Linked DNA regions of Homo sapiens: all the other regions are linked to region 3. The links come from fine-mapping of genetic effects on gene expression. A gene starts in region 3. Each other region holds a variant in brackets. All regions are shown on one strand. Distances are between the middles of the regions.

Region 1 (5,075 bases), 120 kb before region 3:
TTGCAGACCATTTTTCTAGAAATATAGACTCTGATTTCAGGTTCTCTTGCTTCACTTTCCTATATCACACTTCCACAAATCCCAGAGCAGGGCCTGCCAGCTCTCTAGGTTTCTCTTCTCTCATCCACACTCGTCGTCCCTAATGGCAGCCTGATTGATCTTATGCTGAAGGCCAAGAGCTCAATGAATTGTGAGAATTTCTGGTGGAATTTCTTGGTAGAAAATAGCTCTTCACAGGTCCAATACTAATGTTTCCAAAACTGTAAGTCAGAGAGAACTCCCTACCCCACAACACATATACATCCCTTTCCATAATATGTTCCTAGTACCCTTGAGACTATATTGGGGGTGGTATACACTGGGTTTGACCTAAAATGGTAATCCTTATGTGGACTAAAAAAAGAAATTTTTCTTTTTCTAGTTTTCTTGTTTTAATTAAAGAAAGAACCTATGTTTTGCCATCTACTTCAAAATATGCCAAAAGGGAGCAACAACTGCCACAAGAACCAGTTCATACTCAACTCATCCCATGGTGTGGCAGTCTCGTGGACACGTAGCTAAGTTACAGGGGATGAAACTAGCACACTTGTGTCTAAGAGAGAGAGAAACTAAAGATAGTAAAGAAAGTGGAATTGTATCCTTGGGAAAGATCTTCAACACATGGTTAAATAAAGAGACAACCATGAGGTATATTTCACTTATCAATTTGAGTAGAATTGAAAAATAATGCATCTCAATACTGGTGATGATGTGAGAAAATTAGCACTCATAGTCTGCTGGTGAGAGAGTAAGTTGGAACAATCTGGAGGTAAATTTAGCAATCTATCTCAAGAGCCTTACAATAGGTGCGCCTTTTGACTTAGAAATTCCACTTCCAGAAATCTATTCTAAGGGAAAAATAGACATAATGAAGAAGCTAGCTTATTGGTACTTCATTATAGCATCAATTGAGTAAAAAATTAGAGTGACCTTAAGGGCTGAATAAAGAAAACTGGTTAAATGTATTGTAATACACAAGAATAAAGTTATAGATGAAAAAGGGCATGGAAAGATATTCATGATGTATGCATGAAAAAAATCCCATTAACAAACTGTATAGAGTGTTGGCTAATGATAATTCTCAAAAAAGACAGCTAGAAAAACTTATTGACCAAGAAAAGCTAAGTTTATCAGATTTATTTCAACAAAGAAGAACATCTTCTTGACAGAGTCTTAGTAGCACATCAGAAGGGAAGGATATTTACAGGGTCTTAGGGCCATTTAGGGCCAAATGATTATAAGGTGGGTCTTGAAAGGCAGAAAACGGGCTGGGATTGGGCAAAGTTTATAATGTAAAAGCTTTGAATCCATGCGCACTGTAAGGTGAGGTCTTGGACAATTATTGTCGAGCAAGCTGTAGGTCTTGATAAGTAAGCAAATATTTTCTGGAGAAAGTAGCAAGTTGTTTTTGTCTGGTCCTAGTATTGTTTGGCATAGAAACAGAAAAATATATTTGGCCCCAGAATTGTTTATCATGGGGACAGGAAGGTACGTTAGGTTCAGTTCTCTTTTTGTTAAAAAAAAAGTATTCATATTTATATTCCTATCTCACTAGAAAAAGTCTGGGAAAATAATTATTTACTAATTAAAGGTGGTTATCTGTGGGCAGAAGGATTACCAGTATAATTTATTTTTTATTTCTTATCTGTATTTTCAAAATTTTCCCTAATGAACCTATATGCGGAAAAAAGATGCATTCGTTTAAACCTTATTTAGTCAGATAATTCTAGGATTATAGCACCCAGAATCACCCTCCCCTCAAAGCTTCTAACCTGTTTCTAAATATAACACCTAATCTAGGCACAAGTTTGTGGCTAATTTGGACAACTGACTAAATTATTAACTCATCAAAACCATGTGATAAAATGAGCTTAGGTAGCTTTTCATTTTTTCAGCCAGACAGATAAATGCTGTACACACTGTTTTAGAAGGATTCGTTCTTCAGAAGCACCTTGGAAGCATATTTAACTAACACAGACACCTATTTCTCTCCTTAGCTCTCTGTTTTCACTCTATTTTCAGAATTATGGTACAGTGGGTGTCAGGGACTAGAAGGAAATGAAGAGTGAGATCCAAGGTGAACCCAGAAGTCTGCAATAGTGTCTCATGATCTCTCCAGTCAACCACTAATAAATACTTTTGAGCATCTAATATTTGCTGCGTCCTAGACAAGGTGAGGCACGGCACAAAAATTGAATAACCTACGCTCTATCTCTTAAAGGAGCTTAGTTTGTAATTGGGGACAGGGTGGTAACAGTGACTAACACACAGGAAACAATTCTAGACAGACTGAAAATGGTGTGAAACCAAGCACTGCTCCACAGACGGAATAGTACTGGGTTTTAACTGGTCTCTATTATGGCATTTGTATTATGCATCTCAGCGGTCTAGACTCCAAGGCCTATATGGATTTGGAAATAAGAGTGTTTGGGGCATTGAGATATTCTACTTAAAGGAGGATTACATTGAAACTTGTTTTTCTCATTTCCACATTTTTAAATTAAAAATCTTCCCAAATTTTGAGTATGCTTTACTCTTTGCATAAATAAATGCAGCTGAATGAACCCAATTGCAGGGCCTCAGGGTC[A/G]TGTTTATTGCACGTGGATGTAGATTTCAGTGAATCTAAGTAGAAGGATAGGAGACCTATATAATGTAAATCGACTCCAAGTCATACTCTGAAATTTACTTTAAAAGAAAAAATTCACATAGACGAATACCTGATGGCCATGTATTTTCTGGTTATTGGCTTCTTTCCATTAAAGAAGAGCACAGAGAGACCTTCCAATAGATTGAATGTTCCAATTGGTTGAAATGTCATTCCACTTAAAATAACCCTTTATTGCCAAAAAGTACTCTTCATCAGAGATTGTATAATCTCATAGACAAGGAGCCTTCATAACTCCCTTCGGGAAACTGAGGCCCAGAAAGGAGCCTTGCTCAAGGGCACATGGTAATTTAATGATGGACCTAAGAGTCAAATTCTCGTTTCTTTGTTTTCAGTCCTGACTTCCTACCTCTCCAGTCTAATACTCCATGCCTTTTCCCACAAGGTAAAACTTACTGGGGGCTCTGGGTAGGTTAGCTACTAGACATAAAAACAAAAGAAATAAATAAAAGCAGCATAGGTCACAACAACTTTGAGTGTAATGAGATACTCTCATTTACAATGTCACTTCTCTGGAAGCTTCTCTGGAACAGGACTTAGTCTTCCTCAATACTAGGCACAGTCACTGCCATCCTGTGCCCCTTGGTTTCTTCACAGAACCGTTAAGGAAACCAAGACACAGAGAGATGATGTCTCCCATGCTCCCAGCTCTTGGTCAGCCTGGAGAGCAGATGCCCTACATTCACACAGTGGAAGCCTGGGACGCCTCCTGGGTGAGCAGTCTAATGATCTAACTGGCTATTAAAAAAACAACCACCACAACCAACTTGGCTAATATACCACTTAGAATGCCTTGGGCCACTCGTGGGGTAAAAGAAAATCACCATCAAACAATCTGGGATGAATTACAGAACAGGAAATCCAGAGTTAGGACCAGTTTCAGGGTTTGTTGATTTAGCAACTCTGTGGTCACATCAAGGACCCAGGTTCTGTCTCTGTCTCTTGCTGCGTTTTGCAGCATGTTGCCTTTGCCCTGAGGCTGCTACCCTCTCAGGGTCCCCAGAGGACGGCAGCACTTCCAGGCCTCATACCCACAATCAGAAGCAGTGACCTAAGGAGTCACTTTCTTAACAACAAGGGGATATTTCTCAGAAGTTCCTGAGTAAATCTGCCTTCACAATACTGGGCGGAACTTGGTCAGGAGCCCACTTTGAAACCAACCACAGCCAGCAGGATGGCCCAGACCATTTGTGCTTTACTCTTGGAACTGGGGATGAAATCACCCTCGCTCCAGTCATCTGAGGGTGGGAGTGTGTGTGTAGGGTGGGGGAGTAGGGAGGAGGGAGGTGGTGGACTCCTGACCCAATCAGAGCTCTGCCTGTGGAAGATGGGAGTCGGGATGGTGGGGTGACCACCAGCTGCATCTACTGCACCTGTCCTGAGACCCTAGCTGCCCCTCCCATCAAGATCCACCCCTGGGTCTGCTGTTTCATTTCTTCCAAGGTAATGAAGTGCTGTTATGACTACCCTTTAGCAATGTGAATGCTCATAGAAGTCTTCATCAGACGTCACATTGGCTTCAGGTAAAGCTTACTAAGGACTCTGGGAACCTGAACCCAGAGTCAGTGATGTGGTGTTGAGAGTAGGGATTTCAGCCTAGGAACGCAAGCCACTGAGAGCCAACAGAGAGCTCTGGGCACAAGAAGAATGATATTTTAAGGAATTCTTTAAATCATACCTGGACTGTCACTGTTGATCTACCTCCATGGATGACAATGCAGATGGGAAATATGAGACACTGAAAGAGCATCAGTATAATTTTTTACCTAGCCCAGGTATTATGAAAGAATGTTTATTTAGTCTTGCAAAAAAAAAAAAATTGGTTTTAGGATGGCTGGTTCACAAACTTTGTGCTTTTCGTTTTCTTCTTCCTCTTTTCCATTTGCTTTTGATTTTTTTGTTTTGTTTTGCTTTGTTTGAGAGGGAGTCTCGCTCTGTCGGTGTCACTCAGGCTGGAGTGCAGTGGTGCAATCTCAGCTCACTGCAGCCTCCACCTCCCAGGTTCAAGCAATTCTCCTGCCTCAGCCTCCAAAGTAGCTGGGATTACAGTCGAATCACTTGAGGTCAGGAGTTCGAGGCCAGCCTGGCCAACATGGTGACACCCCCATCTCTACTAAAATACAAAAATTATCCAGGCATGCTTTGATTTTTAAAAAGAATGAACATTTTCCTTTATAATGGGAAAATAAATTAACCTTTATGTGGAAAAAAAAAAGGTACTTCATACTTGTCATCTAAAACAGCACAGGAAATCCCCACCTCAAATAAGAAGTTAGATGACCACTTTTGTAATATTTGAAAATAAACCAACTTTATTTGAATCAGTCAATACCAATCAAGACTGGAACACAAATTGGTAATTGGTTCAGAT
Region 2 (5,075 bases), 35 kb after region 3:
CATGAGCCACTGCTCCCAGCCCCATATTATATTTTGTAGTTGGAATTTCATTTTTGTTTCTGAAGGAGGGCTCCTTAAAAGCATGAACTTCAGGTTCACAAATTCTAGGGCTGCCTCTGCTCCTAACCCAGTCTTAGCATGGGAAGATTTTCAGGCTTGACTCTTTTCCATCCTCCCTGTTTCAAATACTCTCTCTGCTTGCTCTTTGGCCTCATACACAGCAGGCATCTTTCTTTCCAGTCTCTTTGCCAGTGGTAAATGGCCTCCTTTTCTCAAAACTCACCTTGGCTGCTGCTTGCTTTGCTCCACCCAGCAGTCACCCCACCTCCCACCTCCTCATCAACCCCAGCTCCATTACTAGTCCAGCTCCTGAAACCTCAGCCCTGATCAGAGCCCTGGCCTTCCTCCTTGCCTGGGAGGGAGTTGAGGCTGGCAATGGACACAATTCAATATAGTTTAACCAGTGAGAAGTTGGCAATGCCATCAGGTGCCACTTGTCTCCCGGGGGAAGAATGGGGGCCAAGAGCCTGCAGTGTCATGTCAGTCAGGCACATGCAGTGGCTTAGCATCAGAATGCGTGGTTCAGACCGTGGCCACAGTAGGGAAAATGGACTCTTCATAGTTGCCAAGCAATGCTAAAGGTCAGACAAAATCTAATTTGAGAATTCAAATTTGAGAATTTAAAAGCCAGAGTGGTCAGAGGCAAGGGAGGAAAACAAAGGAGCTTGCTGTTCAAAAGCACTTTCTCCAGGCCTCCTGTTTGAATATCCCCTGCAACTACTAGGGTAAGGCAGATTTGGGAAAGATAGGGGACTGATTACACTAATGCTGTTTTGCTTTGCAAATGAAGGTTGAGAAGAGCAGTTTAGGGGCTGCTCCACAGGAAAACTTGTAGGGAGTAATCCTAGACTATCTCTTTCATAATCATCTTTGGGATTCTTTCCCTATCCAGGGAAGATGAATAGGTTTCATCCTTTAAATAATATTTTTAACCTACCTCCAAGCATAACATCTCCCAGGAACTTGTGAAAACAGCAAGAACTTGTGATAAAGTTACAAATGCTCAAAAATGTCCCTGTGATTAAGTTTTACCCATGCTTCTACAAGAAATTAATCCCTCTCCCTGTCTCCCTTCTCCCCTTCCTCTCTTTTCTTTTTTCATTTCTAGCAGATAGGAATAGTTGACTGATATAGGAGACAATGAAAGTACCCAACCATTGAGGGGAATTTAAACGCCCTCAGTATTAAGCAGAGTATCACATAGTTAAAAATACAGGCTTTGGAGACCAACAGACCCAGGTATGAGTCCCCATTTCAATATAACCTTCAGATCCAGGCAAGAGCAGTCAACCTGGCTGTGGGAATAGGCAGAACTAACATAAACAAGAAACAAAACATTGGGTTGGGTAAATTAACTCAGGGACAAAAACAGATATGTCATATAGACTACAATTTTCACTTCTTTGCCATCAGCTTTTGACAGGCTATGTAAATAGCCTCAGGCAGAAAGCTCGAGACATAGCAATTCCAATGTTTGGTAAGTTATAGTTAATTGTTTCCAAAATGGGAAATGCTGAGTTAAACAAGATTCAAGGTTTTTTGACTGATGTCTCTGCTCCTTTTATAAGCTAATGTGTACTGTGAATCTGCAAGAGGAGAATTAGGGACTGTTTCTCAAGTTTCTTTAGCCATTTTTTTGTGTGGAGTATCTCAAGGAATGTGTGCTCTGTGGGATATATGTTCAGAAATAAGCTCTGGCCTTAGGAGGTCCCATCACACCAATTGCCAATATATCTCCTCAGCAGCAAACCATTTTAAAGCCCAATGGATGTCACTGGGCTGTTTATTCACTTGTCCATTGATCCTTCTCCATGTTTCTCTGTGTCCCTGTAAGTGCCTGGACCACATCCCTATGCAGAGCAACCAAAGTTAATCTGTTCAGTTGAAAGTAACTGTACCTGCAGCTGTGGACAGATTCCTGCACGTAGTACACCCAGTCTCTGACGCTGTTGATGCCCTGCACTCTGGTTCTGCTTATTTGGTTAAATTGAGTTTTCTAACATAAATAAAAAGGGGAGGCTTTTATAAGGACCTTTTAAGAAATGAAAACCAACACAATATACCATTTGTCCAAGCACAAAGTAAACTTGGCATCCTGAGATGTTCAACCACATCATTTCATTATTACTGCTACTAATGGGAGACAGTGCTTGCTAGTTGCCAAGTTTGAATCATCCCATCTTAGGGCAGAGTTACTAACAGATGCCAAACCAATTTGCTGCTCTATAAACTTTAGAAATTAAAACACTAAAAGATGCACTGGCCTTCCAAACACAGGGATGTTATTTGAATACTAAATAAAAGTTGTTGCCAGGGAAATGGGTGCTTTGTCTTCTTTGCCACAAAAGAATCATGGGCTCTGAGACACTTTTGAGATGGCTTAGGTGGTAGCAAATACTTTTCAGGTATAATGGACTCTACTGGTCCTCTTTTTTTCTTGGCGATTTTAAGGTCAAGAAACTACCCTTGAGATTTATGGCAGGTTGTATTTAAGGTATAAAGTGTGTGTGTATGTGTGTGTGTGTGTGTGTGTGTGCATTCCTCCCCATGGAATCTTTGAGGTGAAAGGACAGAATTTCTCAAACTTCTAGCCTCAAGAAATCCTCCTGCCTCAGCCTCCAGAGTAGCTGGGACTATGGGCATGAGCCACTGTGTGTGAGTCAAAAGTTCTGAAAATGGAGAATACCAACTACAAAAAGATTTTTCTGTCTGCCTTAGTCATCAACAGTGGCCCCCATCTCTGAACTCTTAGAACATAACTGAACAACCCAGTCTTAAATTATCAGCCCTTCTCTAGTGTTTACTGTCACTCTTTCCTCTCTTGCACTTGTAAGCTCCTTCAGGATAGAAATTGAGGCTCCCACTTGTGTATGCCCTGGCCCTTGGGGCAATGGTACTCCACTCTCCATAAACATTTGTTGAGTTGAGTTATGTTGGCCAGGAACTTGGAGACCTGCTTGCTAGCACAATTATCTCAGTGTGATGGGGGGCAAATTACTTAACCTCTCTGGGCCAGTTTCTATGCATCTAAAACAAG[T/C]AAGTTGGTTCAAATGACATCTAAGGTCCTTTCCAGATAAAGATTGCTGAGTCTCTTGTTTCTCTAGCTCAAGTCTTCACTTGTAAAGTGAGGATAAAGTCTTGATTTAGCTCTACGTGCAATCCATAAGACGGTTAGGGTTTCTCTCCTTTTTTTTCTGTGTTTTTCCCTGTGATTCTGCAGTTGGGGCAATCTCTAAGTTTAGGATGACTGGGCAACCAGCCACATGATATGGTTAGAGAATGCTCAAATGTCTTTTCCCTTTCACGTTCTAACTGCTGTGACATGGCAACTGAGTTTCACAATAATAATAATTCCTTGTATTTGTTTAGTGCTTTACATTTTATAAAATACCATCTCATATATTTTATCTTTTGATGCTCAAAACTACCTCATAAAATAAAAAAAGCAGATATTATTCCCATATCACAGATATGGAAATTGGGGCTCAAATAATTCAATTTGCCTAATGGCACCCAGCTATTATGTTAGTCTGAATTCAGCCTGGGTGTTCTTTCCACTGCACTGACTATCTGAGATAAACCATCATCTCCACAAAGTAAATCTGTTACTTGGGTGTGAGTGGTATTTAGGACCCATTGACTCAGCCTCCTTTTGCACCTGCATTCAGCAAACATTGTTAATGTCTACTGTTTTGCACTCCCAGGGCTAGCATGACACTGATAAATTAGTCTAGTATTTTCCATAGTATATTTCTTGGAACACAAAAATGATGAGATTTCCCTGAAAAAAAAAAAAAGAAGAAATTCTTGTGGTCAAATAATTGAGAAATGCTTCATACCACACCCCCTCTTTGAGATTTGCAGGACCTATTCTTGTTTGCAAATTGAAGTGCTGAAAAGCCTTGCAGTAAAGGGTCCTGTTTACACACTTCACATTCACCAGCTCCCAAGCTGTATTTAGAACCCTTTGCTCATGCACAATGATTGAAATATTACTGTCTGCAGATTATCCTGAGATCCTGCTGAAATAAGAGTAGAGAAGTAGGAAAAGGAACAATCTTACAACAGTTAAGAAAATAAGACAGTGTCACCAATGACAAGGGTTGTTGACAAACTTCTGGAAGAGAGAAGATAGGTAGGAAAATGTTGAGAGATAATAGAGTACAGAAAATATTATAGCTCAGAATAAACCCTAAGGTAGGTACAGAGGAGGTGGGGGCCCTGTTCTTTTCCAGGACCCTAGAGAAGCTGTCAGCTTGGAGTTGGCCCATCCCACAGTGGGTGGGAGGTATGATATGGGACTCCATTGGAGGGAGTCAGTGAAATTCTATCCTAGAACAACTTTGCCAGACAGCAGCCAACTCCCACATCCCAGCTCTGTGCAGTGCACTGGGAGCCTTTTACCTGTGGCCTCTACATGGAAAGTTCCCTCCACAGGCAGCCATTTGAGGGTGTGGGGAGAGCTTGTGCTTCCAGTCTCGGTGTGGAGGTGCCAGGGTAAAGACTTTCTCTTTCTGGCATCTGGAGATCCATTCCCTGATCACCCCAAAGGAATGATGATTGACTTGGCCTCCCCTGCCACTCGGCCCTTATGATGTAGTACAGGACACTTTGGAAAAGGAACAATCAGAGAATAAGATCAGAGTTATTAAAAATTAAGAACATAACTGCTAAAAATGAAAAATTTAATAGAAGAGCTAGAAATAAGGAAAGCCTCTGAAATCATTGAGCAAAAAAGCAAATAAAAATATGAGAGAAATGACTAGAGACAGAGGCCAAATACAGAAGGGTCAACCTCCAACTAATAGGAGTTGCAGAGAGAGAGAGAGGAGAGACACTGGAGGGCAGGGCCTGATACACATATGCATTCAGTATAATCATTCCGTGACAGACCGCAAACAGGCAAAGTCCTGCCCCTGGAGCTGGGTGACAGGCTGGTAGGGCAGATGGACAACCAATAAATAAAGCACAATGCCAGTGATATAAAGAAAACAGGAGAATAAGGAAACAGAAAT
Region 3 (5,075 bases):
TGTCATTGTGAAACTCATTAGGTGACTGTGATTTAGAGTGGTACACCCAGTGGAAACAAGAGGTTGGGAGGTCCTTCCAAGGGGGTGTTGAAAATGACCAAGTCATGACTATAACTGGGTGGGACCCATCCTTCTTGGAAGTCTTCATAGAAACCAACCCACCCTGCCCTGCAGAAAGAGCTTCAGTTACCTGACACCATCAACAAGAAGGCCTTTCTTTTTATGGGGAATCATGTACCTCAGAGAAACTCCAAACTTTGGAAAAGTGTGATTCTGTCAACAAGGATATTGCTTCCCTCAAATGACACAGTTCAAGTAAGGCCTGGGCAGCATCTTTATTTCACAATATTTCTAGCCTTTACTTGTCCCATTTACTTGTAAATGAGAACTGCTAACCTGAAGCTCAAAAAGATGGGGTTGAGGGAGGAGTCAAAACAACTTTCATACCTGATGTTTTGATCTCCCCATCAATCTGGTTTTTGAGCTAGCCATGAAGGCCTGCCTGGCTCTCATTGATTTCCTTTAGGGAAAAAACAAATGACAACACAGTCATTTTAGAATTATTTGGGGAACGCTGCAAATTGTGCAGTAAGGTTTTTATATAAATGGAGAGACTCTCCAACACTGCCAACAAGAAAATTCCAAAGGTGCAGGTAGAATCGGTCTCCACACCTAGGAGTGGGGCAAAGGGCTCCTTTGGTTCTAAAGAACCTATTTGTGTTTCAAATATCTTTCAGAAACTTGACACCTTGAAACTACCACTCTCAAGGAATCTGAGTAAGTCCTAGAATCGCTTTCTTCAAGGAGAGCAGCAAGACTCATCGCTTTGTTAAAGCTCTCCCTATTCACCCCTAGGGCCCAGGCCTGGATGCTGGGGTTCAGAACACCCCCTTGCTGCCCTAAGGTCCAACACTACCCAGCATCAGACGAGAAATGACCTCCTTTATTACCTGGGTCTGCCAAAGGACCTGGAAATCCAGCCTGGGGTGGGGGTGGGGGGAGTCCCAGAAACCAAAGGAGCACACAGGGGCCACAGTGGGAAGAGAACAGGCTGAAGAAAGCAAGTGTCACTAAATGTCAGGTGTAAGCTTGAAAAATAAACACAAAGAATGTAAAACCCAGCAGAAGAAATTTAACAAACCTTTGTGGTAGGCTGGGACAACGGAGACAGATCACGTACCAAGTGTAAAGTAAGTCACATTTTAAGAGTCAGAAAGTACCAAAGACCACAGATTGTTATCAAGGTTTATGTAGATCTCATACTTTTTGCAAACATCTATTTAATTAGCTTGTAGAGAAGGATCTTTTGGGCAAAATAACATTTTCCCAATTCCAGGGAATATTTATGCCTTTTAAATTCTGCCAGGAGGCCCCTGACAGGCACCAGTGACTCTTCCCTTCTCAGCGATCTGCATATTTCTAGGGAAACTTTGCACTGAGAGAGTTTTCCCCCTTTGTGAAAGGTCTTGGCGCCCAGGCAGTCCCCGACTTCCCCTCCCCCAAGTCCTGGCGACTGTTTCTGCTCAGCCCTGGAGGCTACTCTCCCGCAGCCTCAGGTTTCCCTACTTCTGCAGCGTCGGCACCAAGGGCTGATCAAATGTTTCTTTCTCCTTACACCGGCGGACCGGGAAACGCCGCCGCAGCCTCGCCTCCATCCTTCCTCCTACAGGTTGCAAATAAAGTACAGCAGCTCTGACATTAGGCAGTTTCTGTCCAAGGAGCAAGGTGACTTCATTTAATTTGCACTGTGCTCCTTCATCCCTGTCTGCATCAGGTTGAACGGGAGGCTCTCCCTACTACCAAACGCCTAACATTTCCTTGATACTGCCTTGAAAAATCATGATTATGACAAAAATAATAACGTCGGAGAATGGAGTGCTTGTTTTCTGCTTTGCAAGTCACCAAGCAAGAAAACACTTTTGTCTCCTTGGCTTTTATTTTAGGATCTCTGAGCGAAAGAGAGAAAGAGAATTTTAAGAAATGTCATTTTCGCTTTGCCAAAGATCATTGTGTCAATAACGTTTCTCTCCCATTCCTCCCCCTCCTCCCGTTTTAAAGGAAAGGTTCACGGGTCCAGCCAGGTTTCTGCCGCATCCCGACACCTGGAGACGTCTTTCAGGACCAGCCTGAATCGCGTCCGGGCTGGGCTCTGGACTCGGACTCGCAGCGGTGACAGCGGAGGCGGGGACGGGGGTGGACAAACTGCGGATCAACTCTCCGAGAAGACGGCCACCTGCCGGAACCTGCCTTCCTCCATTCCGCCCAGGAGCCTCGCAGCGGGGCGCTGGCCTGCGGAAAGGCCACGGGGGAGCACAGGGCTCCGCGCCGCCCTCCTGGGAGGGTCCGGAGTCCAGCGCACCCCGAGCCCTGGTGGGTGAGCCCGGCGGGAGGCGCGGCAGGTGCGGCGGGAGACTGGACCCCGACCTACCTTCACAAAGAGCTCGATCTCGGGGTCCCTGTCGTCCCCGTTAGCTGTCGCCGAGTCTGTCATGCCGTTGGCGCCCGGGGCTACCGTCCCGGGCCGGGGAGGCGCCACCTCTGCAGCACCTGGGCCAGCACTCTGCGCTCCTGCCGCTGCCCAGCGGGGCTCCTCTTCAGGGCGGTGTTTAATTTTTCACAAAACCATCTATTCTCCAGCCCGAGCAGCGGGGTCTGAGAGATCAGTGTCCCAGATGCTCACATGAAAAGGAGCGAAGCCGGGAGGAGGCGGGGGGCCACGGGGAAAGCCGGGTTAAGGGAATGACAACAGGTCGTGGGAGCAACAAGTGCCGGGCTGCCCGGAGGTGTCACAGGATCCGCGACTGTCAGCGATCCCGCCGCCGCCAACGCGCCCAAAATAGCCGGCGGCTGCAGGGCGGGGTCAGCCGGGCGGGGACGCGGCGGGGACACCCCGGCAGCTCGGGCCTGGGCCGGGCCACGGCCCCCCGCCCCAAGACCCCGCAGGGCAGGAGGCGGAGACAGAGCTGGTCCTGGCAAAGCCACCAAGGCCAAGAGGATGTCCTGGGGGCGGATAATGAGGCGAAGGCAGAAAGAGTCGAGGAGAAGGGGAAGGGGAAGAGGAAGGGGAAAGGGGAAGGGGAAGAGGAAGGGGAAAGGGGAAGGGGAAGAGGAAGGGGAAAGGGGAAGGGGAAGAGGAAGGGGAAAGGGGAAGGGGAAGAGGAAGGGGAAAGGGGAAGGGGAAGGAAGAGAGGAGATGGCTCTCAAGTCTTCTGTTTCTTTAATAAAGCGTCAGCTCCTCCGAGTTACTCCACTACCAGCCTTACCCACTTGGAAAGCCCTTCCTGTCTTAGTGATGCTCAGAACCCCCACCAAAAGGGGCATTTGCCATCCTTGGGCTAAGCAAAAGGAGAGTAGGGTGCTGGGGACGGGCAGGGCAGGGCAGGGGTGGCTCCTGGGGCAGAGGGGTGAGTCAACCCGGTCAGGTGCGGCTTCCATGCCTTTCAGCCTTCTGGGTTTGTTTATTTTTCTTCTCCCTTCTTTCATTTTCTTTCTATTTCTTCCTTTATTTTCTGATCTTACTTCATTCCCGTTCTCTTCTGGTTGTTTTAGTGAAGTAGGATGCAAACACAGAAAAGATGCACATATCTTAGGTGTATGCCTCAATGAATTTTCACAATCCAACCCACCCATGTAACGAGCGCCAGATGAAGAATAAAATGTTAGCCACAGCCCTAGAAGCTCCTCCTGCTCTCTCCTCTCCACATCTTTTCTCCCGTCTCCACTGTCCCAGGGTAACCATTATTCTGGCTTGTAGCAGCATAGGATCTTTTTGCCTGGAATGTTGGTGTCTGGCTTCTTTCGCTCATTACTATGTTTGTGAGATTCATCCATTGTGCTATGTGTAGTTGTGTATCATCCATTTTCACCGACACACTTACTTATTCATTCTTCTGTCAATGGACATTTGTGCAGGTGACTATCATGACTACTCTGTCACGAACATTCTCTCTATCAAACATCTTTTGGTTGGATTCACAGACACTTTTCTCTTGGATGTATACTTAGGAGTGGACTTGCTGAGTTGTAGTGTATAAGAATGCTCTCCTTGTGTAAACACTGCCATAGGTTTTCTAAAGTGGTTGCACCAACAGACATTCCCACCCTTCAGTTCTTTAAAAAATAATTATTGAATGTTTTGCACCAGAATCTGGTGGAATTCTCTTTGTCTTCTTTGCCTTCTCTTTAATTAATCCTGTTTGTGCTATGTCCTTCCTTACTAAAAACATGTATTTGTTTAATAGCTTTATTAAAAAATTTATCGCTTAATAAAAAAATAAGTAATAATACTTATTATGTGCTAGGCAAAAATGTTGAGCACTTTACATGTGTGAACTTGTATAATATTTACAAATAGTATAATGATCCCAATTTTACAAGTGGGGAAACTGAGACATGAAGTATTTAAGTAACTTATCCCTAGTCATTCAGCTAGGAAATGGTGAAGTCAGGATTTAAACCCAGACAGACTTGAGCCTGTCCTCTCAACTGCTCTACAAACTGCTTTTCTTAGTGCACACTATGGAAGTGCACACTTTGAGGAAACAAAGGCATGGTTTTAACGGTCTTAACAGAGATCAAAATCCCTTTCAGAATAATAGTTACATGAAATGAAAACTAAGGCTGCCACATGAATTGGGAAGATGAAGGAGCTATACAAGCTGTCACGTAAAGATACTATTTACCATGGTTGGGGTGAGGAGAGGAAAAGGCTTCATGGAGCAAAAGGCACTTTAGCTGAACCTTCCTGAAAGGTCAGGCATCTGATAGGCAAAGAAAAGGGAAAGATGTCCTCACTACCCTTTATGGCAGGCTGTGTCCCCACAGACTCTCAGTGCAAATTCCTCCTTCCTGAAGAAAGCAGTCACCAAGCCCAACGTGCAACTCTCTTGGTACATTATAACTTAATCAAGGTGATGTTTAATTGCTTTCCTCCTGCTTGGCTTCAGGCTTACATCACCAAAGCCTTTAGAGAAACAGTCACCTTCACAGCTGTACATTCTGCACCAATGACTACATACTTTAGGGAAGGACCAAGGTTACAGAGGGAGACTGGTGCCTTCGCTGCATGATGCACA
Region 4 (5,075 bases), 110 kb before region 3:
CTATCATTTCTGCTAGATTCCTATGTGAGGAGGCCAGGGATGGTGCTGACCTTCATGAAAGATAGCAGGCTGGAGTTCCCATGATACCAGCAAGATGAGGCTTGATTATAAAAAGTGCGCCTCAAGGCAGTGATACAGAGGAGTCTATGAAGCTGGAGTCTTAGGGGAGTGGTTGAGTCCTTCTGCAGCGGGGATGGGGCAAAATGGCTGTGCTCAGGATCGGCTGAGGCGTTTGGCGACATCAGCGTAGGCCAACTCGATCTCACTGTCAGCTGCACAGGTGTTGGTGAACTCATCACGGGCATAGGCGTTCTTGAGGTACCGCCACAGGCCTGTCATCTCAGCCGGGATATCATAGTTGCGGTATTTCTTGGCCACAATCTAAAACAGAGATGGCAGGACAGAGGTGGTGTGAAGGCATGAAACAAATCATTAGAAAGTGTTAGTGGCCGTCCCAGTGTGTGTGCACTGCAGGAAACCTCCGTGCATCACCACGGGCCATCAGTGATATGTTTGAAATGCAAGGTGGCAGTGCTGTCTTCTTTTTGTTTTGTTTTAATTTAATTTCTTAAGTAAACATAATTTGCCCTTTGACCTAGTGTGTCAAATTCTAGGAATTTTTTCTCAGGAAATAATCATGGATGGATATAAAGATTTACCTACACAATTATGATCCCAGAGCTATTTTGAATAACAAAAATGGTGCACAGCGCCAAAGTCCAACAATATATGAATACATACATTATCTTACACAAATAAAATGTCATAGTGGAGGGACATTAAAAATGATGCTGCTAAGAAAATCTAGTGATCTGGAAAACTCTCCAAGATAGACTATTACATTTAAAGTTCAAGTATAATGCATTTGGAGAAACATGTATGATGGCTAGATGTCTATATACCTATATATTACCAGTGGTTATGTCTGATTGATAGAATTACCAACAATTTTTCTTTTCTTCTTTCTCTTATTCACTTTGTTTTACACAGGCCAGTTTTTCCCTTCTTTATTTATAGAAGGGAAAAAAAACCATGAAAAGCAAGTTAGATATTGGAATGTATATGTAGGTTTAGACTATGACATAAAAGTAAGCAAATACTGATTTCTGTTCTCGCCCTGGTTTGCCACAGTCAGGGGGGATGTGGACTGGAGAGTTCTGGAGAAGTGGTATTTATGTTGAGAGAAACAAGAGCAAAGTGATTAAAAGCATGGGCTCTGGATACCAACTGACTGGATTTGCAATCATGGCTCCACTTAGCAGCTGTGTGACATTGGGCAGGTTACTTAACCTTTCTGAGCTCCAATTTCTTTATCTCTAAAATGGATATAATAATAAAACCTACTTTGGAGTAATAAATTAGTTAATACACATCAAATGCTTAGAGGAGTGCCTGGCAAATAGTAAATACTCAATAAACATCAAGTATTATTATAATTCATTGAGACCTAGCTTGTACCCATTTGCATGCATTTTCTTAATGGGGACAGCAGGATGGTTTCTTTAATGAGGTCTCTCTAGCTGCGGCAGCTTCATGGACCTGTGACCTGTGCAGTCTCACCTTGCACTCAGAAGAGCCCTGCTGTTGATTTAATGCTCTGGGGTCAATGTGTGGAAATTCTTAATAATTTTTAAACAGGGCCCCCCTGTTTTCACTGTGCACTAGGGCCTGCACATTAGCTGGTCCTCCTCTAGCCCTTCCAGGCTAGGCTAGGGTAGGGGTAACAGGAGAGTAGTATCACTTCTGACTCCCCTCCCTCCCTCTTTTCTGTCCCTTTCCTTCCCTCCCTACTCCCTTCCTTCCTTCCTTCCTTCCATCCTTCCTCTCTCTTTCTCTCACTCTCTCTCTCCTTCTCTTCCTTCCTTCCCTCTTTTTTTTGGGGGGATACAAGGGGGTACATGTGCAGGCTTGTTACCTGGGTATAACGCATGATGCTGAGGTTTGGGGTATGATTGGTCCTGTCACCTAAATAATGAGCATAGTTTTTCTACACTTGCCCCCTCCATCCCTCTGCCAAGTAGTCCCCAGTGTCTATTGTTGCCATCTTTATGTCCGTGAGTACCTATTGCTTAGCTCCTACTTATAAGTGAGAACATGTAGTTTCATGTTTTCTGTTCTTGCATTAGTTTGCTTAGGATAATGGCCTCCAGCTGCATCCATGTTGCTAAAAAGGACATGACTTTGTTTCTTTACATGGCTATGTAGTATTCCATGATGTATATGTACCATGTTTTGTTTATTCAGTACACTGTTGATGGGCACCCAGGTTGATTTCATGTCTTTGCTATTGTGAAGAGAGCTGTCATAAATATATGAATGCATATGAAATTTTTTTGGTAAAACAGTTTATTTTCCTTTGGATATATAACCAGTAATGGGATTGCTTGGTCAAATGATAGTTCTGCTTTTAGTTCTTTGAGAAATCTCCAGAGTGACTGAACTAATTTACATTCCCATTAACACTGTATAAGTGTTCCCTTTTCTCCACAGACTAACCAACATCTGTTGCTTTTTGACTTTTTCACAATAGCCATCCTGACTGGTGTGAGGGAGGTGTCTCCTTGTGCTTTTAATTTGCGTTTCTCTGGTGACTGGTGATACTGAG[CT/C]TTTTTTTTTTTTTTTTAATGTTTGTTGGCCACTTATTATGTCTTTTTTTGAGAAGTGTCTGTTCATGTCTTTTGCCCACTTTTTAATGGTATTATTTGTTTTTTTCTTATTCAATTGTTTAAGTTCCTTATAGATTCTGGATATTAGACCTTTGTCAGATGCATAGTTTGCAAATACTTCCTCCCATTCTGTGGGCTAACTGTTCACTCTGTTGATAGTTTCTATGTGCAGAAGCTCTTTAGTATAATTAAGTCCCACTTGTCAATTTTTATTTTTGTTGCAATTGCTTTTGTAACTTCATCATAAATTACTTCCCAAAACTGATGTACAGAATGTTTCCTGGTTTTCTTCTAAGATTCTTACAAGTTGAGGTAAATCTTTAATCCATATTGAGTTACTTTTTGTATATGATGAAAGGTAGGGGTCCAATTTCATTCTTCTGCATAGGGATAGTCAGCTATTCCAAAACCATTTATTGAATAGGAAGTCATTTCCCCATTGCTTATTTTTGTCAATTTTGTGGAAGATCAGATGACCGTAGGTGTGTGGCTTTATTTCTGGGTTCTCTTTTCTGTTCCATTCATCTATGTGTCTGTTTTTGTACAAGTACCATGTTGTTTTGGTTACTGTAGCCTTATAGTGCAGTTTGAAGTCAGGTAATGTGACACCTCCAGCTTTGTTCTTTTTGCGTAGGGTGGCTTTGGCTATTCCGGCTCATTTTTGGTTCCACACGAATTTTTAGAATAGTTTTTTCTAGTTATGTGAAAAATGACATTGGTAGATTGATAGGAATGGCATTGAATCTGCATATTGCTTTGGACAGTATGGCCATTTTATCAATATTATTTCTTCCAATTTATGAGCATGGAATGTTTTTCCATTTGTTTGTGTCAGCTGCAATTTCCTTAAGTAGTGTTTTATAGCTCCCCTTGTAGAGATTTTAACTCCCTGGTTAGATGTAGTCCTAGATATTTTATTTTATTTTATTTTTGCAGCTATTATAAATTGGAGTATGTTCTTGATTTGGCTCTCAACTTTAATATTGTTAGCATACAGAAATGCTACTGATTTTTGTACATTGACTTTTTTTTTTTTTTTGAGATGGAGTTTCGCTCTTGTTGCCCAGGCTGGAGTGCAATGGTGCAATCTCTGCTCACTGCAACCTCTGCTTCCTGGATTCAAGCGATTCTCCTGCCTCAACCTCCTGAGTAGCTGGGATTACAGGCATGCGCCACCATGCCCAGCTAATTTTGTGTTTTTAGTAGAGACAGAGTTTCTCCATGTTGGTCAGGCTGGTCTCGAACTCCCGACCTCAGTCGATCCGCCTGCCTCAGCCTCCCAAAGTGCTGGGATTACAGGCATGAGCCACTGTGCCCGGCCACATTGACTTTTTATACTGAGACTTTACTGAAGTTGTTTATCAGTTCCAGAAGCCTTCTGGTGAAGTCTTTAGGGTTTTTGAGGAATAGAATCACATCACCAGTAAAGAGAGAGAATGTGACTTCTTCTTTTCCTATTTGTATGCCTTTTATTTCTTTATCTTGCCTGATTGCTCTGGCAAGGACTTCCACTACTACATTGAATAGGAGTGGTGAGAGTGGGCATCCTTGTCTTGTTGCAGTTTTCAAGGGGAATTATCCCAGTTTTTGCCCATTCAGTAAGATGTTGGCTGCAGATTTGTCATAGATAGATGGCTCTTATTATTTTGAGGGGTGTTCCTTTAATGCCTAATTTATTGAAGGTTTTTGTCATGAAGGGATGTTGAATTTTATCCAAAGGTTTTCTGTGTCTATTGAGATGATCATTTCATTTTTGTTTTTAATTCTGTTTATGTGGCGAATAACATTTATTGATTTGTGTATGTTGAACCAACCATGCATCCTAAGAAGAAGCCTATTTGATCAATGTGAATTAACTATTTGATGTGCTGCTGGATTTGGTTTGCTAGTATTTTGTTGTGAATTTTTTGTGTCTATGTTCATCAGGGATATTGGCTTGAAGTTTTCTTTTTTCATTGTGTCTTTGTCAGGTTTTGGTATCAGGGTGGTGCTAGCTTCATAGAATGAGTTAGGAAGGAGTCCTTCCTTGATATTTTGGAATAGTTTAAGTACGATTGGTACTGGTTCTTCTTTTTATGTCAGGTAAAATTCAGCTGTGAATCCACCTAGTCTGGGGCTTTTACTGGTTGGTAGGTTTTTTTAAATTACTGATTCAATTTCATAACTCAATTAGTATGTTCAGGGTTTCAATTTCTTCCCAATTCAATCTTGGAATATTGACTTTGTATACTGAACCTTTACTGAAGTTGTTGATCAGTTCCAGGAGCCTTTTGGTGAAGTCTGTAGGGTTTTCAAGAAATAGAATCATAATCAGTAAAGAGAGAATTTAACTTCTTCTTTTCCTACTTGTAGGCCTTTTATTTCTTTCTCTTGCCCAATTGCTCTGGACTTCCACTATGATGTTGAATA
Region 5 (5,075 bases), 55 kb before region 3:
GATTCTGGGTTTAGTAAACAAAAATTGTCAAAGACCAATAGAAATATGCGAGGATGCTACCATTTACTTTCACTGTCTGGGTGTCCCTCTTTCAGCTTCTTCTATTCCCCTTCAAATCCCAACAGCCTTGCGGCCCTAAGAAATTGTTTGTTAAACTCATGGGTTAAATATCGTGATCTGTGACGACCATCTGAAACATCAACAGAGAAGAACCAGGTGGGGCTCAGTTGGGCCCCACATCCTGAAAAGTGTGAGGGAAAACCCAGGTGTACTTTGTTCCAGAGAGATTTTGAGCACTGGGGGCCAGGGACCGGCACAAAAACAGTGTCCTAGGTTGAATCATGTTCCCCCAAATTCATGTCCCCCTGGAATGTGTGCATGGGACCTTATTGGGAAACAGGGTCCTTGCAGGTGGAATCAACTTGAAGATGAGGTCATATTGGATTAGAATGGGCTCTAAACATGACTGATGTCCTTACAAGAAGAGGGAAATTTCGGCACAGACATGCAGAGGACAAAGTCATGTGAAGATGAAGGCAATGATTGAAGTGATGTATCTACAAGCCAACGAACGCCAAGGATTGGTGGCAGACACCAAAAGCTAGAAGAGACAAGTAGAGCCTGGCTCTGCCCACACCTTGATTTTGAACTTCTGGCCTCCAGAACTGTGAGAGAATCCGTTTCTGCTGCTATCAGCTATACTATGTATAGCAATTTCTTGGAAACTGATGCAATCAGGGAAGTGTCAAAAAGACAATTATATATATATATATATATATATATATATATATATATATATATATATATATATAAACAGCTAATGGCAAACTTCCCAAGCTCATGATTCTGCTTTGAACATGATTGCCAGCTATAATCCTAAAGTACTTCCTGTTCCCTAGATACAGTGTATATAACAACTTATTATAAAATATCATGCCACATATAATATTCCATATGGTGATACCAGTAGTAGTAGCATAATGTAATTATATAGGCTGTATGATTGCACTTCATCTGTTATATGCTGGATACTTCATATTATATGCTATTATATATTGCCTTTCATGTGAGCTCTCTCCATATATGATGAGCTTGGCTCCCTCAAAACATAGTTGAAGTTTTATTTACTTTGTCTTCAGCAGCAACAAGCACAGGCACCTGAAACTTACTTTATATTCAGTGCCTATTTAAATGGATGCATGCTGAGGGGAGGGTGATGTCCCTCCCTTTTTGTGGCTTGAGGATCTCAAAATTCTCTCACTGGCATTCTGAAAATCATCCTAAAATACATGCATACATACTACATACATACATACATACATACTACATACATACATACATGGTTACCCTGAGTTATGTAGCACACTAGCCGGAGACTGTGGTTCTAGATCCATCTCTGCCTCTACTTCACTATGTGAATGACCTTAGATAAGTTACCTCCTCTTGGCCTCAACCACTGCACCTATAACTTCCTGCAATTTTGTAAATTCAAGTGGAAAATGGAGATTTATTTAAGACCGCGGTTCTCAAACTTTTTAGTCTTAGAACTCTTTTATGCTTTTAAAGATTGTTGAGGATCCCAGAAAGGTTTTGTTTATGTGGATGATAGTTATTGATATTTACCGTGTTGTAAGTTAAAGCTGAAAAACATTTAAATATTTAGAAAAATGCTATAATAAATGTGTCTATTAACATACACAACATCTTAACACAAAATAACTATATTTTCTAAAAACAAGAAATTTAGTAAAAGTGGCAATGTTTTATATTTTTACAAAATCTTTAACATCTGACTTAGTAGAAGTCGGCTTCCACATTTAATCTCTTGGTATTTAGTTGGGGTATATGGGGCTTTTGTTGTTGTTGTTGTTGTTGTTGTTGTTGTTGTTTTTGAAACAGAGTCTTGCTCTGTCATCCAGGCTGGAGTGCAGTGGCGCGATCTCAGCTTATTGCAACTTCTGCCTCCCAGGCTGAAGCAAATACTGACAAATATTAAGTCTGAGTAAGCATGGTGTGTCAGCCAGTTGCTCTTTCAGGTAAAAACTGCTTAGTGAGGGAGGCAGCTGGTTCAGCTGGCAACTCAATCATACAAGTGCTTTTCCTTCCACAACCATCAGACTTTGGAATGCAGCCAAAGAGCTTATGTGCATTTCCCATTTCATCAACCAGAATGTTTAGAAGACATGTATGCAAAGGTTGAGATTTAATCACATTATATAATTTTTAATGCTTCATCAAGGACATTCATAATTGAGGCTATTTTTTTTTTCTGCACATGCATGACTGGCTAGTCACACTTATACCACTGCTTGGATTTGTGCTGAAACACTAGTAAACTTACCCACGAAATACCAATCCCAGAGAGAGAAGCATACCATATTGATATAACTCTAAAAATAGTTGTGACCTCTTAAAACCCCTGAAAGCCTCTTAGCGACCCCAGAAGTCCATGAACCACATTGGAGAACCATTGTTTTAAGACATTCCATGAACACACCAGATATGTAATACTTGGTTTCCAGATAATGAAGGGGAAGCTGATAATTGGCCAAAAGTCACTCGCGGGTACCCAAGTCCAGAAGTGGGAGGAATCATTCAGAGAGGATCCAAGAAGGAATTATAGAAAGTGACCAGATGACATTGAAGCTTGATAGATGAGTCAGTTATCAATTTATTGCCTTTCAGCTCCAATGCACCCTTGAATATATGCTCTGTGAGAACAGGGGGAATTTCTTTAAACATTTCTCCTTTAAAGTGAGCACAAAGTTAGGCTTTCTCACCAGGGAGAACTAGAGGGGCACTGCAGGAGGAAGAGGCTTTCTTGCTGGCTGTGGTGTGGGCTGGGGGTGGGCAGTGTAGCTGTGAGGGCACGCAGTGGAGCCACCCCAGCTATAGGCTCAGCATGCAACCCCCCTGGCACCTCATAGCCTCAGCCTGGCAATAACCTTCCCAGCACTCTTGACACAGAAACCAAAGTCCCCATTAAGCCTATGTCCAG[C/T]CGGCCTATGGCCAGTGTGTCCACACAGCTTGGTCACCCCCTTTGCAAGCCCCACGTGTCCTGAAGGCCTTCTTCTCCACTAACACCTAGATCCTGCTGCATGCTGTACCGATGCTGATTGCCTGCTCCCTGCCTGAACTCTGGGGAGTGGGCTATTGCTTGCTCAGCGACTCCAGACCAGCTCTGGCCTGATCAAACCAGTGAGTTTCTGTGCCAGGTTCCAAACCACTTCTAAGTTTGTCCTTCCCTGGCTCCTCTCCCTCAGCCCTAGGGTACCATAGAGAGTTTCCTTATATGTCATGGTTACTCTTTTATCTTAGTTAAAACTTCATGTTGAATTTCTCCTGTTTAAGCTACCATGTAGTTTCTCACTCCTGATTGGACCCAGACTACATCAGATGCTTAAATGTCTGTTATTTCAAAATGTAAGATTTTTGTGACCTTTGACTTCTTTAAAAACCTGGCAAGGTTAAGTCCTGGATGAAGTATTAGGAAAGAAACCTCAGTTTTCTCAAGAAAGATAATTAAGTCACCACTTACGTCACATTTCCACTTTTTGTTGCTGTCGCCCATGAAACTTGTCCCTGAGGACTCAAGTGATTAAATAATTTTGTTAAGTGTACAGATAAAAATTAAGCAACAGTAGGGCTGTAACTGACCTCAGGAATGCTATACTCCAGTTCTTTCTTTTTACTGGTAGAGAAATAGACCCAGAAAGGTTAAATGAATTGCCCATGGTAGCACAGCTGGTTCCCATAGCAGAATCAGGTCTCTCTAACTCCTGACTCTCAGTTCTGAGCAGACCACACTGGCTGCTGTCCTCTAGAAAAGAGTGACAAAGTGGCAAAGGCCACATGAAAAGGACTTTCTTTAAACATAATAGCTCATTTAAACTGTTTAGACAAAGAAGCTTTCTTTATAATAATATTTCCAGCTGCCCATTTTTTAATTAGTTAGTGTAAGTCAGACAACATTTCTAGTTGTGACTATTTTTTTTTTAATACCAAACAGTCTATCCTTCCAATAATTTGGTTGGCAAGACTTCAATTAGCAGGGATGGGACTTGGTGGTACGTGGTCCACATGAGGACAGAGAGGTCTACCCTTGAAGAAATCAACATTTCCTTTCTCAGAAGCCACAAAAGGCCTAATTCACTGGGGTCACCCAGGCATTTTTCATTCAAGAAACAGGTAACAGGTATACATTTGAGGCTACAGAGATCCTCAACATTTATCTAAAGTTTAATGTATGGGCTTAATTAGCTCTATGTAGACCACTACCTGTGCAATGTGATATGAAGAATTCTAGGTATATTGGTCAGAGTTCTCCAGAGACAGAACCAGCACAACATGTATGTGTGTGTGTGTGTGTATTTATATATACATACACATATATGTACATACACACACACACACACACACACACACACACATCCTGTTATATCTACTATATATGGAGAAACGTATACACATCTTATTTTTATATAATACATTATAATAACATAATATTATATATATGTGTGTGTATATATATATACACATATATATAATACATATCAGTTGGGGTGTGAAGAGAGAGAGATTTATTTTAAGGAACTGGCTCACACAGTTGTGGAGGCTTGGTGTGTTCAGAATCTGCAGGGTAGGCCAGCAGGCTGAAGCCCCGGGGAAGAGCCGCAGTTCGAGTCCAAAGGCAGCCTGCTGGCAGAATTCCCATTTCTTCAGAGGAGGGGGTCAGTCTTTTTTTCTATGAGGCCTACCCACACTATAAAGGGCAATCTGCTTTACTCAAAGTTCACCAATTTAAATGTTAATGTCATCCAAAAAAAAAAAAAAAAAAGCACCTTCACAGAAGCATCCAGAGTAATGTCTGGTCAATATCTGGGCACTATGGCCCAGCCAAGTTGATATATAAAGTTAACCATTACACCTGGCATATTTAAATATTTTACTTGATTCAGGTAACCTATTAATTCAGTAGCTGTCATCTGCACCTTAGCTCACCAGATGGTTTTGTAAACAATTGAATATAGTTGTGTACATGTCCCCTCCCAAAAGAACTTGTAGGCTCCAGACTT
Region 6 (5,075 bases), 64 kb before region 3:
CATATCTACTCTTGAGTGGATTTTGTGGAGTGGTTTTGAGATTGGCAGCCCTTTGGGGGTCCTAGGCTCTCTCTTTGAAGAAAGGGTCCTGTTCTCTGGACTGGTGAGGTTCCTTTGGAAATGCATCTGCCCGAAGTTAACACCAGGACTTTATAGATCCAGCATGAACCCTTCCCATTCAACAGCCCCAGAAAGAAACAGATCCTTACTTTTCAGGGGTCAAGGTCTCCTCCAGGAACTCCTCGATCTTATTGACGTCTGTCTTCACGTCCCCGTTGAAGGTCAGGAAGGGCGGGTGCGTGCCGGGGGCTAGGTTGTGCAGGTCAGCTGGCTTTCTGTAGAGAGAGCAAGATTCAGGTGTTGGCTTACAGCAGGGTGCTTCCTGTTCTGGGAAACCTAAGATTGATTGTAACTTAGATGCCCTGTGCTATCCAACATGCCTGTCAGGTGAAACAGATTTATGGTATGCAGTATAGGGCAGGGGAGGTTGGAGAAAGTTCTGAAAGAATGTGGTGTGACCCAGGAAGTGTGTCCAGTGGAGTCAGTGAGAGAGGAACAAGTCAAGATGAAGGAGTTGAAAAAATGAAAGAATTGAAAAAATGGAGAGAATCCAGGTGACTATCTAAGTCAGATCCAAGCTTTAATTACCCAGGGGAGAGGTGGGGTTTTGCTTTTAAAAGCTCTTTCACCAATCTGCCTAACAAAAATGCGCTACACATAATTCCATACTTTAAAAATTAATGAATTAGATCATACTTTTCTCCTAATAAATATCTCCAGATACAAAAAATTGGGAGTTTGGGCCATTTGTTCAAGTTAGATGCTTCTATTGTGTGTAACTTATATTTTAATATCTAATAACTAATGTCTAACATTGGTCAGCCTTTTGTCACACTCAACAGAATACTCTTTTTGAGTTATAAACAGCCCCTGATATGGTCTTTGGGTAGCCAGGAAAATAAACAAACTATTAGATTGAAAACAAAACTATTAAATGAAGATGTTTTCAAAAGTCTTCTTATTGCTAAGATTATTGCTCCACAAACACCAGGTAGGCTATTACCAAGGATTCTGAACCAAGAACCTCCTACTGGTGAGTAAGAAGATACCTGAGAGAAAGCCTTACGATTCAAGCTCCATGAGGGAAAGGACCCAGAACCATGCCTGGCATATAGGAGGCCCTCAGTAGATACATATTTTTAATGGCTACATGAATAAAGCATGCATTTTTGATTCAGCTACAGTGGCTCATGCCTGTAATCCCACCACTTTGGGAGGGTGAGGTGGGAGGATCACTTGAGCCCAGGAGTTCGAGACCAGCCTGGGCAACATAGCAAGACCCCCATCTTTACAAAAAAAAAAAACAAACAAAAATTTGCTGGGCATGGAGGCATGTGCTTGCAGTCCCAGCTACTTGGAAGACTGAAGCAGGAAGATTGCTTGAGCCCAGGAGTTCGAGGCAGTTGTGAGCCGTTGATGGCACCACTGCCCTCCAGTCTGGGGGACAGAGTGAGACTCGGTCTCAAAACAACAACAGCAATAAAAACTCATACATTTTAAATTTAAAAATGAGTGATTTTAGCTGCAAAAGTAGAAATCAAATGTTGGTCTCAAATTGGTAAAAACTTCAATCCAGTTATGAAGGCTTTCGGCTTTCAGTTAAATGTGGGGAGAACCAGTAGGCAACTCCACTGCTACAGTATTCATGCTCCACCATAGTCTACCTTTCACAGTATTTTAACTTAATTCAAGCATCTACTGTTCTCAAAATAAGACTTATTTTGAGAACATTTACTAGATTTACTAGAAAGAAGTTATTTTTCTTTAAATTTTAAAAATTCTGTTCAACATACATAAATCAAAAATCTCCTAGGAGTCAGAAATTGTGCCTATTTTTAAAAATTATGGGGTTACTTAAATGTTATCTTAAGTTAAAAACAATTTATTTTCTAAGTAAATGCAACTTCTGCTTTGTGATGGGATTCAAATAGATCACTTGATTTATGAAAGTTATTTCTTCTTATAGCAAACTTTGCTGGGCCCAGTAGGATCTTTTAGGTAACACATACATATATATGTAATAGGCAGCAAATTTGCTCCCTAAGAAGACAGAAAGCTCTTTGGTGTGCCTGTTAGTTTCTGGGTCAGACACTTAAAGAAATCCAAGATAACCAAAGCAACAGTGCATTTCTCCCCCCTGGGAAAGAGGAGACCCAAGAGTCCTAAATTATCCTGAAAGAAAGGCCTAGATGATGGAGAAGTGGGTGAAATTCTGGAACGCAGTCCCAATTGAATGAATGAACAATTAATTAACTGAACAATTAATTGAACTTCCTGCACTTAGCCCACAGCAGTGCTAAGTGGCATTTCTGGCGTGCACTGGGGAGCACACTGACTACCTGCAGGAAGGCCAAGTGCAGTGGAAAGGAAAGTGGCCTTGTGTTTGACACGGCTAGGTCCTGTTAATATCCAGGAGTGTGCTTCTGTGTCTGCGCCAGCTGGTCAGAATGCAAGAGCAAGAATGGAGCAAAATGAGGGGGAAGAAGGTTTGGCAGATTGGGGAAAATGGGAAAGGGGAGGGTTACACTAAAAATGTTTAGGGAAGAGGAGGGAAAATGGTGGCGACTTCCAAGACGGTGCTGGGATTCACCCCAAATGCTCTCTCTGAGAATGCCACATTTCTTGTGGGAGTCGGGAGTGGAAAACATTAAACGCAGAAACTGTAAAAAAA[G/A]TAAACAGTGGGAGTAGAGGAGTCTGTAATGAAACAAATTCCTGGCGTAATCAGTTTGGGAGGGGAAGAGAAGAATTTCAATTACTGTGCTACTCCCATGTCCCTCCCCAAACACACACACTCTCCAGCTGCATTCTGAGGCACTTGGAACTCAGACAACTGAGACGGAAAGTATTTTTAAAATCTAATTTACTTAGTCCCTTTATTTACTTTGTGCATGTCCCTCATTTTAGACAATGAAAGGACATTCTTTATTTGCTCCTGTTTTTTAGAGCTGACACAAGGCAGCAACGTGTGTGCTCTCAGTCACCTCTCTGTGGCTTACAGATACAGGAATGTGTGGTGGTGGTGATGGTGGTGGTGGTGGGTTTTTTCCTGGGATTCTGGAGAATTGTGGCCACTGGAGTCAGACGCCCTTGGGAAGTACTGCCTATGGCCACCGACGCTTAGCTAGAGTTGCAGCCCTCTGTCTTTGTTGACCCTGCTTCAGTATTTATAGTTGAGACTATATCATTAGCATTGGATGACGTATTGCCAGGTATGATTTATGAATTATGTAATGAGGATCGGTCTTCTTTTCCTTACTGGATTGCCAGCTCCATGAACCCAGTGATAATTCTAAGAATAACCAACATGCAACGAGTTCTTGCTATGAGTCAGGTACAGGACCAATTGCAAATGTTTTACATGGCCTGCCTCGATAAATTCTCACAATAATCCTATTGATTAAGAAGACACTGTCTCCATTGTACAGATGAGGAAACTGAGGCTCTGAAAAGTTCAAGATTATTCAGTCACTAAAGTGTAGTGCCAGGAAAATAAATCAGTTTTCTTAGAAATTAATGTGTGTGTTCATGGGTAGAGGGGGCAGTAAGAAAGTTTCCTTATCTGTAAAAATGGAGTGGTGCTACATGCCTGGTCTACGTCAAAGGGGTGTTGGCTGGACCAGGTGTGATCATGTGAAGGAGGAACCAAACCATCTGAAGCACGCGGGCAGGGGTGGTTCCCTCTCCCACTCTCTTCTCCAGCAAACATACAAGTCCTCTCTCACACATGGTAATCCAAACACCTCCAATTCTGCACTGAAGGAAGCTGCTTTTTCATAAGTCTGCTGCTCTCTTTAGTTATCACAGACATTAATTGCATAGTGGATGCAAGTTCATTTATTTGACAGATAGTATTTGAGGACCTGTGAAAAACTAGTTTCTATGGAGGATACAAACAAACTTAAAACACGATTCCAGTCTGTCCTTGAGGGATTGAAGGTCTCATTTGAAAGATGAAACAAACTTCATAACTGAGGTATTATGAAGAGCATAGTATTTGAACCAAGCAGATGGCGTTTAGCCCCTCTAATTTCTAGTTGGCATCTTGGGCGAGTCTCATATATATCTGTCTCAGTTATTTCTCAAATAACACGGAGAAGTAAGACCTCCTTCACAGGATTATACATTATGTGATTTTTTTTTAATGAGAAAGCATTTACCAGTTGTAAAGCATTAGGGGTGCAGACCTCAGAACTTGATGAAACACTAAATCACGACACAAGGCAACATAGACAACAGGTGCTGGGTGAGTCTGGAGGGAGGTTGGGTTGACAGGTGTGCTTGTATGAGTGTGGTGGGATGGGTATGAGTAGGCCTTACAGAGGGGATGGGCTGAAGCTGAGCCTGGGGCCAGGGACAAGAAGGAAGAGAGGGCCTGTTTTAGACAGAGGATGCAGTTCTGCCAAGGGATGGAGGCTCAAAGGAAGAAGAACAGCAGAAGGCAGGCCAGCCTGACAGAGTAGACAGGTCACGGTGAGAAGTGTTGGGAAAGAGTGTTGGGAAGAATGAAGGAAAAGACAAATCGGGGCTTCGGATGCATCAAGTCCATGGACAATGGGAAACATCAAAGGTTTCCTGTGCATGAAAGTGGCCTGATTAAAGCATTATTTTAGGAATAATAACCTTAGAATCACATAAAGGATGGGTCAGAGAGAGAGAAAAAGAGAATGTGTGAACCTGGAAAGATGAAGACCAGTTTGAAGAACAATGAGACTCTCAGGGTGGCAGTGGTGAGACTTGAACCAGTTGTAGGCTTTGAGAATGAAAAAGAGAGTTTGGAGGAAGAGAGAGTGCAATAGGAGAATGCTCTAGACTTGGCTACTGATCAACAATGAAGGCAGCAATAGAAAGGAGCAGGAAGTGTTTAGTGCCTAGAAAATAGAAGAAAAAGACCAGGAGCAGTGGCTCACGTCTGTAATCCCAGCACTTTGGGAGGTCGAGGTGGGTGGATCACAAGGTCAGGAGTTCAAGACCAGCCTGGCCAAGATGGTGAAACCCCGTCTCTACTAAAAATACAA

Direction of the effects. Positions count from the first base shown, and alleles are read on the strand shown. Sizes are in standard deviations (SD) of each study's normalised expression. Not every link is listed here.
As copies of C replace CT in region 4, the expression in skeletal muscle of the gene that starts at base 2,809 in region 3 goes down (moderate effect, 0.73 SD a copy in FUSION).

Evidence for each region. PIP is the estimated chance that this variant, and not a neighbour inherited with it, causes the effect. A credible set is the group of variants that fine-mapping cannot tell apart.
Region 1: its variant is the best candidate, but not a certain one, in a credible set for the expression of CLIC5 in whole blood (INTERVAL, PIP 0.75).
Region 2: its variant is the best candidate, but not a certain one, in a credible set for the expression of CLIC5 in whole blood (INTERVAL, PIP 0.80).
Region 4: its variant is the best candidate, but not a certain one, in a credible set for the expression of CLIC5 in skeletal muscle (FUSION, PIP 0.83).
Region 5: its variant is the best candidate, but not a certain one, in a credible set for the expression of CLIC5 in lung (TOPMed, PIP 0.53).
Region 6: its variant is the best candidate, but not a certain one, in a credible set for the expression of CLIC5 in tibial nerve (GTEx, PIP 0.90).

Annotation. Positions count from the first base shown.
Region 1 is chr6:45,893,463-45,898,537 of GRCh38, forward strand. It overlaps CLIC5 (chloride intracellular channel 5), which reads right to left. Exons shown (of 6, transcript NM_016929.5): 6 at 4,994-5,075. Among named protein-coding and RNA genes, the nearest start is that of CLIC5, 120 kb to the right of the region's middle. The variant A/G (reference allele first, on the strand shown) is at 2,627.
Region 2 is chr6:46,048,282-46,053,356 of GRCh38, forward strand. It overlaps a transcript of CLIC5 not described here. Among named protein-coding and RNA genes, the nearest start is that of CLIC5, 35 kb to the left of the region's middle. The variant T/C (reference allele first, on the strand shown) is at 3,098.
Region 3 is chr6:46,013,052-46,018,126 of GRCh38, forward strand. It overlaps CLIC5 (chloride intracellular channel 5), which reads right to left and starts at 2,809. Exons shown (of 6, transcript NM_016929.5): 1 at 2,429-2,809. The coding sequence starts at 2,491. RefSeq lists enhancers at 1,922-2,766, 2,767-3,611 and a silencer at 2,460-2,509.
Region 4 is chr6:45,902,875-45,907,949 of GRCh38, forward strand. CLIC5 (chloride intracellular channel 5) reads right to left here. Exons shown (of 6, transcript NM_016929.5): 6 at 1-381. The coding sequence ends at 214. Among named protein-coding and RNA genes, the nearest start is that of CLIC5, 110 kb to the right of the region's middle. The variant CT/C (reference allele first, on the strand shown) is at 2,606.
Region 5 is chr6:45,957,665-45,962,739 of GRCh38, forward strand. The region is part of intron 1 of CLIC5 (chloride intracellular channel 5); the gene reads right to left. Among named protein-coding and RNA genes, the nearest start is that of CLIC5, 56 kb to the right of the region's middle. RefSeq lists an enhancer at 2,976-3,475. The variant C/T (reference allele first, on the strand shown) is at 2,999.
Region 6 is chr6:45,949,047-45,954,121 of GRCh38, forward strand. CLIC5 (chloride intracellular channel 5) reads right to left here. Exons shown (of 6, transcript NM_016929.5): 3 at 210-335. Among named protein-coding and RNA genes, the nearest start is that of CLIC5, 64 kb to the right of the region's middle. The variant G/A (reference allele first, on the strand shown) is at 2,732.